2 separate regions of the Homo sapiens genome follow, and region 2 is linked to region 1. A link means that fine-mapping ties the variant in region 1 to the expression of a gene that starts in the linked region. Tissue or cell type: lung. Region 1 holds a variant in brackets; the other region holds the start of a gene. All regions are shown on one strand. Distances are between the middles of the regions.

What was found. PIP is the estimated chance that this variant, and not a neighbour inherited with it, causes the effect.
Region 2: it holds the start of SULT2B1, and the variant in region 1 is fine-mapped to the expression of SULT2B1 in lung (TOPMed, PIP above 0.99). The same link has a PIP of 0.9 or more in thyroid.

The regions. Positions count from the first base shown.
Region 1 is chr19:48,570,986-48,573,737 of GRCh38, reverse strand. All of the region lies in intron 1 of SULT2B1 (sulfotransferase family 2B member 1), which reads right to left. Among named protein-coding and RNA genes, the nearest start is that of SULT2B1, 20 kb to the right of the region's middle. The variant G/C (reference allele first, on the strand shown) is at 1,184.
Region 2 is chr19:48,550,834-48,553,585 of GRCh38, reverse strand. SULT2B1 (sulfotransferase family 2B member 1) reads right to left here and starts at 1,414. Exons shown (of 7, transcript NM_177973.2): 1 at 1,263-1,414. The coding sequence starts at 1,333. RefSeq lists an enhancer at 1,470-1,994.

The sequences.
Region 1 (2,752 bases):
GAGCTGGGATTTGAACCCAAGCTGTGGTGGCCTCTCAGCCCTGTAGACTCAGTCCCTCCTTCCCCATGAACGCCACAGTCCAGCCAAGACCTCCAAATGCACCGAGCAGTAGTCCTACCTCTGGGCCCCTGGAGCTGCTGTTCCCGCTCCTGGAAATGTCCCCCGACCCTGCCACTCTCTGGGCCTGAGCGCAGAGCCAGGACCCCCCTGTCCCCCACCCACATGCCTACGTGGCTGCATTCTCGCATTCCTAAAACAGGTACCCTGTGCCTGCTGTCCACCTTGTAAAACAAATCTGGCCCCGGGACGAACTTCTCTACGCCTGGGACGTAGACAAACAGGCCTGTTTGTTCCCACAAAACACGTCCAGGGCCTGGCGTGCTGATATCGCTCGATTTGAGTGGAGGAATGAAAGGGACAATTAAGCCAGCGAGAGGCCAGGGACAGGGACAGCAGACAGAGCTCCTCCGGGTGGGTGGCCACAGCAGGCAGGTGATCCCCGGGAATGACTCAGCCTCCTGGAGGGTGAATGGTTCTGCCTGCAAGCCCCCTGGACATGTAAATTTTTTTTTTTTTTTTTTTGAGATGGAGTCCTGCTCTGTCACCAGGCTGGAGTACAGTGACACGATCTCGGCTCACTGCAACCTCCGCCTTCCAAGTTCAAGCGATTCTCCTGCCTCAGACTCCTGATTAGCTGGGACTACAGGTGCCTGTCGTCACGCCCAACTGATTTTTGTATTTTTAGTAGACATAGGGTTTCACCATGTTGGCCAGGCTGGTCTCAAACTCCTGACCTCAGGTGATCTGCCTGCCTCAGCCTCCCAAAGTGCTGGAATTCCAGGCATGAGCCACCGTGCCCAGCAGACATGCAACTCTTAAAGGCCCAACTTCCCAGCCCTCCTGCCTCCCTCCTCCATGGACTACTGGGTCCTGGTTCCTTCTCTGTCCCTGCATTCCTGCCCACCTCAGGCCTTCTCCTCTCCCTGTGGGCCCTCGACTCAGCCTCCTCCAGGTCTTCTCCGCTGCCCCTCCTCTGCTCCCAGCCCTCCTGTGGCACCTCAGTGCCCTCAGGTCAAAGCCTAGGCCAGTGCCTCCTCCTCTGGCCTCCTTGCTGCAGACACCAGCTCCAGGCACGCCCATTTTCCACTCTCTGAGTGCCTTTCCCATCTCCTCCTTCCACCTC[G/C]ACACAGGTCAGATATCACCCTCTTTTTTTTAATTTTTTTTGAGATGGAGTCTTGCTCTGTTGCCCAGGCTATAGTGTAGTGGTGTGATCTCAGCTCACTGCAACCTCCGCCTTCCTGGGTTCAAGCTATTCTCCTGCCTCAGCCTCCCTAGTAGCTAGCACTACAGGTGCATGCCACCATGCCTGGCTAATTTTTGTATTTTTAGTAGAGACGAGGTTTCACTGTGTTAGCCAGGATGGTCTCGGTCTCCTGACCTCATGATCCGCCCACCTCGGCCTCCCAAAGTGCTGGGATTACAGGCATGAGCCACCGCTCCCAGCACAGATGTCACCCTCTAAATGCAGACCTTCTAGACCAATAGCCTCCTTGCCCCAGGAGATGGGGCCACAGCCTCCTTAAACCTCTGAATTCCCTCTGTCCATCCCCCTCCAATCCCAGGAAAGGGCCTGGCACCAGGAGGGGAGCCACCCGTACAGAAACTCTATGCCAAGAACATGCATGATCCTAGACTTCTCCCAGAACCTCAGGAAGTGAGTAGTGAAAGGACCACTTCATGCTCCAAGAAATGGAGGCCCAGAGAGGTTAATATAGTCCCCTAAGGTCACACAGCAGCCATCATAGTTTTCATTAAACACAAGTGCAGCCGGGCATGGTGCCTCATGCCTCTTGTCCTCACCTTTTTCAAGTCTTTGTTCCAAATGTCACCCCTTATCATGAGGGCTACCCTACAGCATCCTGTTTACAGCTAGACCCCCTGCACCCTCTTCCCCTGCTCTGCCTACCATCACACCTGTCACTCACTCCTGAGCTACTCTACAGTTGACATATGACATTGATGGTTTATTGACCATCTTCTCCGCTTGCATGTAAGCTCCATGAGCCTGGGAATTTAAAAAAATCTGGTGTTTTTTTCTTTTGTTATTGTTCTGTCTTGTTTGCCAATGTACCTAAAGTACTCTCAGCAGAGCCTGGCAGCAGGGAGGTGCTTGTCAATATTTATTGAAGGACCCAGGCAGGAGGATCGCTTGAAGCCAGGAATTCAAGACCAGCCTGGGCAGGCTGGGCACTGTGGCTCAAGCCTGTAATCCCAGCACTTTGGGAGGCTGAGGTGGGCGGATCACCTGAGGTCAGGAGTTCAAGACCAGCCTGGCCAACATGGTGAAACCCCATCTCTACTAAAAATACAAAAATTAGCTGGGCACGGTGGTGGGCGCCTGTAATCTCAGCTACTCGGGAGGCTGAGGCAGGAGAATCGCTTGAACCCGGGAGGCAGAGGTTGCAGTGTCCTGAGATCACATCACTGCACTCCAGCCTGGGGACAGAGCGAAACTCCATCTCAAAATAAATAAATAAATAAATAAATAAATTAGCCAGGCATGGTGGCCTGTACCTGTAGTCACAGCTGCTCAGGAAGCTGAGGTGGGAAGATCACTTGAGCCCAGAGTTCAAGGCTACAGGGAGCTATGATCTCACCACTGCGTGCTCCAGCCTGGGTGACAAAGCAAGACCTCATCTCTAAAAATAATAATAGGCCAGGTGTGGTGGCTCATGCCTATAATCCCAGCACT
Region 2 (2,752 bases), 20 kb after region 1:
ATCCCAGCACTTTGGGAGGCCGAGGCAGGTGGATCACCTGAGGCAAGGAGTTCAAGAACAGCCTGGCCGACATGGTGAAACCCTTTCTCTACTAAAAATACAAAAATAAAATTAGCCGGGCATGGTGGCGGGCTCCTGTAATCCCAGTTACTTGGGAAGCTGAGGCTGGAGAATCACTTGAACCCAGGACGCGGAGGCTGCAGTGAGCTGATATCGTGCCATTGCACTCCAGCCTGGGCAACAAGAGCGAAACTCCATTTCAAAAAAATAAAATAAAATAAGAAAGGAATGAGGCAACTGGGCTGAGAACAGGTCTTGGTTGTCTCCCTCCTCACAGCCCACGGTGGCTGGAGGGGCCCAGGCTGCCAGGAAGGTCTCACTTGGCAAGAGTGCAAGATACGAGGGGTTGGAGATTGTCTCAGCAGTTTGCTGTGTGATCTGGGGCAGGCTGCCTGCCCTCTCTGGGCCTCTGCGCTCCCCTAAAAGATGGAGCCACGGGGAGGGGTGTAAAGGGGACATCACCAAGGCTGTGAGGAGCAGGAGAAACCACAGGCTCTGGCGTGAGACAGACCGGGTTCAGATTTGCTTCTAGCTGCGTAATTGCGGTCATGTCGCGTTCCCTCCCAGCCTCAGTTTCCCCATCTGGAAAGCAGGTACTGTCAAAGTGTCTGACTCATCCCCAGGAAGAGGGAGTCACGCTGAGCTCATGGAAGTGGGCAGTGCTCTGCCCTAACCACTGTTAGGAGACCTGAAGAGTCCAGAGCCTGCCCTCTCCGCCCCAAGTGCCCTAGAACACAGCTTCTCCCTCTGGGGGTCTCAGCAGCATCCCAGTCTCTCCCATTTCACCCCCAAGCACCCCCGTTATTTCAGGGCTTGCATGGGGTGTCCTGGGTACTACAGGCTGTTGTGTTTCCTGAGCAACTACTATGCACCAAGCTGCCTGCTCTCTTCCACTGCTCTATCAGGGAGACACAGGGCTTGTGGGCCCCTTTGACAGACAGAAAAACTGAGGCCCGGAGAGCGACAGGGACACCCCAGGCATCCCCACTGGTGACTCAACACGGTCGGGTCCTCACTCCCTTCTCAGGAGGGACCTATACACCACACTGGATGCCCCAGCCCAGCCCAGCCCCTCCAGCTAAGTCTGGGCCAGGCCTGCGGCTGCGGGTGGCTGGAGGCCACCCTTGCCACAGTCCCCGGCTCCCCCAAACAGCCACCTCCTCCCTGGGATCTCCTGGCTCCTGCCCAGGTCTGGGCCTCACCTGATTTCCGAGATGTCATCTTCATAGGTGTCCCACAAGCCCGGGATCTGGGGCTCGGCGGGCCCGTCCATGGCAGGTGGGTGAGGGTGGGGAGGGGAGGACGAGCAGGGAGCAGGCGGCACAGAGGCCAGGTGTGCGCAGCGACAGCGTCTGCCACCTGGGGAGCCCGCCAGGTGCCTACTCCGTGCCCGGCCCAAGGGGAGGGGCAGCACCCAGCCGGTTCTCCCAGCTGCTACCCACGCCTCCAACAGCGGGGAGAGGCCAGAGGGAGCCACCCTGCTCTGAGGGCGGGGAGGAGCAGTGATGGGCACGTCCTGGCGTCTGGTGCTCAGCTGGGGGCAGAGTCCAGGGGGTCAGTGCCAAGCCCACGCCAGAACCTTCCGGGCTGGCAGTTCTGGGCCTGTGGGCACCCACCTGGAGCCCACGTTGCTCATTTGGGAAATGGCGCTGATCTCGCCCATCTCAGCGAGTTCATTCATTCATTCATTCATTCACTCATTCATTCCTTTATTCATTTGAGAAATATTTACTGAGCATCTCCTGTCTGCCAGGCGCTGTTCCAAGCACTAGGCCACCGCTGGGGAAGGGGCAGACAGAAACTTGCCCTCACGGGCTGACGCGTAAGGGGCACCCTGGAAACAGACACAGGGACAGAGGCACAGCCAGGACCACGGCAGCACAGACAGGGCGGGAGCCAGGGAGAAAGGGAGAGGGCAGAGGGCATGGGAGACAGAGACCAGGAGGGGACTGAGATGCACAGGGGCCAGAGACCTTGAGAGACGCAACAGAGATACACGGAGGGCGGAGACAGAGACACACGGACACCCAGAGGAGACAGAGACACACAGGGGTCAGAGACCCTGAGAGACCCAGCAGCGATATACAGAGGGCAGAGACAGAGATACATAGAAAGGTCAGGGACAGGGAGAGACACAGATATGAGAGACAACTGCCAGATATGGTTGGGCGTGAGAGTCTGAAGGTCACAGCCCTGGTTCAAATCCCAGCTCCAGTGCCTCCCAGCTGTGGGGCCGGGAACCATCTTGCTCATAGGCTCATCTTGCCTTAGTTTCCCCATCTGTGAATGGCACCCATCGGGCTGTTGTGAGGACTGAGGGAGACACTCTCAGCTGCTGGTGGAGGATCTGGTACACAGTGAGCTCAGCATAGACGGTGTTCTCTTCTCTTCTGCCCCCACCCCAAACCCTGGCCCTCCCCAGCTGTTGGTCCCTGACCCCTCAGAGTCCTGGAGTCATGAAGCCAGTCTCCCCACCAGTGGTGGCAGGTGCCTGTAATCCCAGCTACTTGGGAGGCTGAGACACGAGAATCGCTTGAACCTGGGAGGTGGAGGTTGGAGTGAGCTGAGATCACATCACTGCACTGCAGCCTGGGCGACAGAGAGAGACTCCATCTCAAAAAAAAAAAAAAAATGCCAAAAGAAAGCCTGTGCAATGGCTCACGCCTGTAATTCCAGCACTTTGGGAGGCCGA